Linked DNA regions of Homo sapiens. The protein of the gene in region 2 purifies or fractionates together with the protein of the main gene of each other region. This does not show direct contact. Each region holds a gene or a part of one and is shown on either strand. Other genes may lie near its edges.

What was found. Proteins that work in one complex are often made in the same cells at the same time.
Region 1: the proteins of TMEM9 (region 2) and DNM1L purify together in Homo sapiens (affinity purification with mass spectrometry; one large-scale study listed by BioGRID and IntAct). This does not show direct contact.

The regions. Positions count from the first base shown.
Region 1 is NC_000012.12:32,738,301-32,741,800, reverse strand, and holds part of DNM1L (dynamin-1-like protein), read right to left. Parts: intron 1,738-3,500; coding exon 1,561-1,737; intron 1,393-1,560; coding exon 1,283-1,392; intron 1-1,282. UniProt on the Homo sapiens protein: Functions in mitochondrial and peroxisomal division.
Region 2 is NC_000001.11:201,140,975-201,144,474, forward strand, and holds part of TMEM9 (proton-transporting V-type ATPase complex assembly regulator TMEM9 isoform a precursor), read right to left. Parts: intron 2,978-3,500; coding exon 2,846-2,977; intron 1-2,845. UniProt on the Homo sapiens protein: Transmembrane protein that binds to and facilitates the assembly of lysosomal proton-transporting V-type ATPase (v-ATPase), resulting in enhanced lysosomal acidification and trafficking.

The DNA.
Region 1 (3,500 bases), on a different chromosome or scaffold from region 2:
AGGCTGCAAACATGTACAGCATGTTACTGTACTGAATAGGGAACTGTAACACAATAGTATTTGTGTATCTAAACATAGGAAATGTACAGCAAAAACATGGTATCATAATCTAACGGGAACACATTCAAATACGTGGTCTGTTGACTAAAATGTTATGTGGTGCGTGACTATACTGATTCATACTACAGTATGGATGAGGCTTAAAAACATTAAGTGAGCCGGGTGCAGTGGCTCACGCCTATAATCCCAGCACTTTGGGAGGCCAAGACAGGTAGATCACCTGACGTCAGGAGTTCGAGACCAGCCTGGCCAACATGGTGAAACCCGTCTCTACTAAAAATACAAAAATTAGCTGGGCATGGTGGTGCACACCTGTTATCCCAGCTACTCAGGAGGCTGAGGCAGGAGAATCGCTTGAACCCAGAAGGCAGAGGTTGAAGTGGGCCAAGACTGCGCCACTGCACCCCAGCCTGGGCGACAAAGCGAGACTCCATCTCAAAAACACCTTCTGCAGAGGATGGGGGCAAGGAAGGAAACAAATGGAATTTTTTTCTTCAGGCCCACAGTGTAAAACACTAGGAACTGTTATTTCTACTACAAGCTACGGGTTTAAAAAGTCTACAAGCAAAAAAGATAAATGGTTCTACAGACAAAAATCATTTATTTCAATATGAAGTATTAGACTGTTTATTACTCTGTGCAGTAAAATTCATCTTAGCTGCTGACAGATTACCAAAAACTGGATGCAGAATATTTTCTAATAGATCACTTCACACAACTAAATGTATATTCTCCCTATTACTGCATGAAATGACATACCAGGCAACATGAAGGAGAAGATGCAGTAGGGACTAGACACATGAAAAAACATTCTGAACGAGAAAAAATACACATATTTCCTAGTAAAAGACATTCGTTTTGATACTTTGGAAAACCAAGTTAAATTAAAAAGGCAAGTCAGTGTTACTAGCCAAAATAATTAATGAAACTACTAAATTAAAATTTAGGAAAAAGATTTTCTTAAATGACTCAAAATGTGGCAGCCAGATAGAACAAAAGAATCTCTCATTTTTAATAGCTTTTTCTAGCTGATACATGAGGTCCTAGTCATTCTATGTTAACAAAATGGGTCTTGCTACAAGTTACCCAAGGACTATCAGAAAATCCACTTGATGATTTAGAATAAAAACCTAAAATTGTAAAAATACATGTATTTTTCAAAACAGATCACAGAATCATCCAGAAGTATTAAAGTCCGTCATTTATATTAAGTAATACTAACCTGTCTTGAATATTCTTTCTGACAATGAGAAAATATGATTTAATGAGTCGTTCAATAACCTCACAATCTCGCTGTTCCCGAGCAGATAGTTTTCGTGCAACAGGAACTGGCTAAATAGGGATGAGGGGGAAAAAATATTACTTTTGTGACACTAAAATGGCAGCTTTAACATCTGAAAGTTATGTAAGTTTTTGAGACTTTTAGTTCTTTCTGTCTAATCGTTTTCCTACTAACTTGGTCACCTACCTTATTACCTAAACCAAATTGTCATGGCTTACCACATCTAGCAGGTTCACGGCATGACCTTTTTGTGGACTGGCTGGCATAATTGGAATGGGTTTTGATTTTTCTTCTGCTAATAACTCTTCAGCTTTTGAAGTTTTCAGCATTCCTCTCCAGTTGCCTGTGGTTGGTTCTTGAACACCATCTCCAACCCCACCACCTCCAGATGCAACCTGAAAAAACATGTTCCAAAACATACCAACCACATCATATCTGACCTTAACTAAAACAAAGTTCATTTTATTTGACAGTAGTCAATATACATCCAGTACCCATCTGAAGTTTATTCAGACAGATAATGAGGTCAGAAGGAGACACTAGGTAGCATGTATAACTGGAACCCTGACCTATCTAAATAATAAAGAAGTTCTGCTCTAAGTTGTTTGCAAGGCATCAACCAACTTATGTTCTATTTAATTCCTTTTTTCTTTATCATTCGCTAACTTTTCAAAATCGTTCCTCTTCTCCCACCCTTCAAACACTAAATTGTAGGAAAAGTATATGCTGCCCTTAAAAACAAAACTACTCGTTAAAAGCACAAAGAACTGCTATTCAGTTTAATTTCTTAAGTAATCATTAACACTGTTAAACTCTAAAAGTTCCATGAACTTACGTCTCTGAACTTAAGAGTTTATATGTTTCTCAATTTACATTTCTAATAGTCAACAAAAATGCCATAAGGTATAAGTAAGAACTCTTTAACAAAAAGCAAGACTACATTTGCTATTCTTAGGCTGACAGTCACTGTGAGTTGTTTCAAATGCGGAATGTGACAAACAACAGAAGTCCCCTCAACCTCTGTACTCTTAAGGATTTGCTGAAAGAAATCTAGTGCTACCATTAATCACAAGTGCTTTTGTACCTTGTTTTCTAGAAAATGTATTAGTCTTGACTTCTAAAAGTCAAAAATGACTTTATAATGGAAAAACAATTCATCAACATTTAAGAGGGTTTTTTTTAGGTATTCTTTAAGATCTTACAATCTAAAAATGGATTATATAAGTTTAATAGAGGATTATGGCAGTTAGAAAAATGGTAGTTTGAGGTATCATTCTGAATCAAAATATTTGCTAAAATCTGTCTTTAGTATGTCAGTTAAGGTGAACTACATTTAAATATAAGTAGTATATTTATGTTACACATTAACTTAAAAATGAGTAATTAGATTTTTAAATGTTTGTTAACTATACATGAATGACATACCAAATGAAATCTTAAGGAGAGAGAGCACATTCAGTGTGACGTCATGAATGAAATAAAACTTGTGCAGTGATTTAGATGGTTTGATTAATATCTGAGCACAGTGGGCTGAGAGAAGATAAGACATTTATAAACCTTTATTTGAAGTTCAGAACTTTAAATCTGGATAATTAAGGAAAGGAGCTAAATGGCAGAAAATCTTGAAATAGCGATGAGTCTGAATAATTTATACATTATTTAATTTTCCTCTAAAATGGTTATCAAGAATTGAAAACAGTCTCAAACTCTCACAGTCCCCATTTGTTTTTTTAATTTGCTTAAGCTTCTGAAGCATATGTGAAGCTATATATAGGGTAACAAGTGCAAACTAACTGGAAGCATAAGAAAGAAGCATTAGATCTATTAGTACTGAACAGATCTCAAGATCTTTAAAGAGGAAAGGAAATGTCCAAAAATACAATTCCATCTCTGAAATCTAGGAAATCTCTGAATTTCCTACCAAAATACTAAATTTAAAACTATTCTTGAAGGTAACAAAACAGTGAGAAAGCCTATTATTGTTACTAATTAAAACAACGTTTAATGCCATCTTCCACAGGTTAGATAAAAGGAACATTAAGAACATAACACAGACAAGAGATAGATACCACTACACAAACAGGTTCTTTAATGGTGGTATAGACAGTGTTTCAGTGAGAACCAAAGGTACCAACATTTCCATTCTGAAGCAAGAGAC
Region 2 (3,500 bases):
GTCTCTGTAAAGACAAGCTCCTTGGGTTCTGTCCAGCCCCAATGCCCTGTTCATCCTCCCTGCAGTTCAGCGGTCACTCTCCCAACCACCCTGAGTGGGCACTGAAAATCCCCCTCTGCCAGGAAGCCTTCCTTCCCAGACTAACACAACGAGAAGGGTAACTTTCCGACCCCTTGTCTAGTAAAGAGGGGCCTCCCAAGGCACCTGACTTTTCAGCTGACCACCCGTCTTACGAAGCCAGATCTTACTGCCAGCCTTTACGTTTCCTGCTGCTTTACCTGCTTTTGGCCGTCTTGGGGCTTAAACCCCCGAGGGCAGACATAAGGTCTGTGCAAATCTCAACACTGTGCCACCTGCAGGTTTTCTGAATACACTGAGAAAAGCAGAGTTGCTGAACCACAGACATCTGTGACCTGGAGACCACACAGAATCACAGGAGGTGAGGGGATAGAGAGATGATGCCAAAGAACGGGACTGGGGGCACTTCCTTACCCAGCCAAGGGCACCCAATGAGATCTACCTGCCCCAGGCCACAACCAGCGAGAGTTGGCTGCACCCTAGGTCAGGGTATCAAAGAGATTAAACACAACTTTTTATGAGCTTTTAGAACCTCAGGTGAGAGGTGAGGGCGTGTCATCCTGTCCATCCCAGGGCCGCAACTTCCCCTACAGGAGGGAGCATGGCTCGCCAGCTTCTATGTGCTGCAGCCTATCACAGCCTACTGTCCTCCCAGGCAGTCCTGCCACAGTTACCAAATCTAGCCCTTCTTCCTCCCAAGGCCCCCTCATACAAACAGGCTTCAAATGAGGAGCACTCCAGGTCTCCTGGGGGTAAGAGAGACCTGGGTTCATACCCAGGGACGGCAAGCTGCTCTCCCCAAGCTGCCCTCCCTCTGGCTCCCTGGCTAGGATGGCAGGAGACATAACAAGGCCATGCCCCAGAGCCATGCATTCCACGGAAATCATTGGGCTGCATCTCTCAATTACTACCCCAGCCAGGACTGCAATTACCACATTACCCCTAATCGCTGAGTGTTTATTAGCGATGCTCCTCCCCTATCAGAGCTGCTATTACTCTACATTAATAACCAGGTAGGCACACGAGGTTTCCTCTTGAACACAGACCACCCAACTGCCAGTGCCACCACCTCCCAGGCCCTAGCTCCAATGGGGCGAGGCTCATCCCCTCTGCTCCACCTTCGGCCAAACTCATGTCAGCAGGAGGCTGGGGGCAAACTGGGAGCAGTCCAGGCATGTGCGCAGGGTGGGGCAACACAGCCCTCGAGAGCAGCCAGGCTCCCTCCCTGATCTGCCCTTCTCTTCGCTGTTCATGCTGGCCCAGACCCACATCACCCAGGCAGCTTCACACTTAGACTTGAGCCCCTGGGTCCTCTTTTTGGTGAGGAACTGGCTCATGGTCTTGCAAGGGAGCCCAGCCCACCTACCCCATAGTTAGACCACGCTGTCTACAGGAAGACTCCCAGCCTCCTCCTCATATTGTGTTAAATCTCTCTGTCCCTGGATGAAGCCAAGCTGTCTTCTACAAACTTCTGAAGGCAGCTATCATGCGTCTCCTTTAGTTGTTTTTCTTTTCCTTTAAGCTAAATGACTCTCAGTTTCTTCAACTAATTCTCTGAGGCCTAGCTGAGGCGCTTCCCGACTAGATATTCCTTATGCATACGCATGAGTTCACTCAGGGCATCCCTCCATCAGTCAATAAACAGGAGTATCTTCCAGCAGCAAGGCCCTGGGGACAGAGCTCAGAGTGGAAGCAGCAGCCAACCCCGCCTGCCTTGGCTCCACGCCTCTAAGCAGCCCGCTCTGCTGTCTCATGCACCCAGCTAGCTGGTACATGAGCGCATAAAGGGGGAGCCCGAGGCACACGGGGCTGTGCAGTCCTCACTCAGGCAAGATTCCCCTAGACCACCTGGGGAGTGCAGGGCTCATCACAACTCTGCTCAGCATGGAGGTACACCACGTCTCACTCCCACGAAGAGCCCTTCACCTGAGCCCTCCTGTCCCCCCGGGTTTCCTCGCCATGGTGTCCACAACTTTTTAGTATGAGGATGAATGGGAAGACGGTGACAGCGCTTGTTAACTGCACTGGGCCTGGTCCAAGCCCTGCCAGCTCCCCACCATTGCATGAACTCCTGGAGGCCTTGCAGGCTGTCTGGGGTCAGTGGTTCCCCACTTTCCTTGTCAGATAAAGCCAAACCCCCTTAGCTTGACATTTGGGACTTTTAATAATGTGACCTAAATCTACTGGCCAGCTCTCTTTGCCACTATTCAAACATCTCTACCCTATCCTTGCAACGCTCAAAATTCCTCACACATACTTGGCAATGTCCCCTGCCCGGCACCACTGTCTCATTCCTCTTCCGCTCTTGAAATCCTACATTTCTCCCCAGACCCTGGAGCTCTGGTTTGCATTGAGCAAGTGTTCAACAGATGTTTGTGGAATCACTGGACAAACAAATTAACCTGCTGCCGTCCAGTCCACCAGCAGCTTGTCACCAATGTCTGAGCACACGGGGGATATCATGTGTATCTATGTGTGACTGGCTCTGGCTGGCTGCGCCCCCTCTGCCTGGAAGCACAGTACAGCAGGATGACATGGCTCCCCCGGCTTGTACATGGAGACTGCTTGATGCCCGGTGTCCTGCTTCATCTGGAAGGGCAAAGAGCAGGTCCCTGCTGAGTCTGGGTGATGTGTACGACACTGACCAGAAGAGCAACTTGAAGCATTTTGGGGAGGTGGGACCTGGACCTAGGTGACGCTCCTCTGGGTTTTGCCCTGGGGACGCACATGCAGGGACCCAGGGCCTGGGCACTCAAAGCCCTCTTACCTCATTCTCCTCCTCATTGTGCAGTTGCTCAGTATATGCATCCGGCTTTCGGATCAGAGGGTCCACCAGCATCAGGAAGGCCATGTAGAGCAACAGGGCACCCACCACGGACAGGTAGATGACAATGATGACCTGAGGAAGAGACCGGCGTGCCTATGAACCATTATCTGAGGCCAGGGCTAGAAATCCGTTGCTAGTCTTGGGCCATCTGTGTCCGGCTGGCAGTGACTCCTCAAGTGGTGCACTAAGAAAGGACTTGGAGGCAACGTGGGCTCAGAGGGAAAGCATGCCCAGAAAGGAAAGGGAGGGCCCTACTCCACAGAGGAAGCACTCTGTCCTAACTTGAGGGAGTCTGCACAGCAGGCATCACGACAGCAGGCAGATGACAGAGGAAGAAGTCTGGAGCCTGATGCCGAGAGGCTCCCGGGGTAGAGATGGGAACACAAGGGCCTCCCTGGCTGTAGAAGAGTTCATGATGAAGGGTGGAAAGCAATCAGAAACTAAGAGCAAGGAAGAACAGGCTGTGGAGAGGCTGGAAAGCTGGGGCCAGGAAAAGTAAACCTGGGCTGGTGGGCTCATTGCTCCTGTGGAGAGCAAGACGGATGGGGCGCGCTGGCCCACTCATGGCATGCCCCTGAGCAGAGTGGCTAGGGCT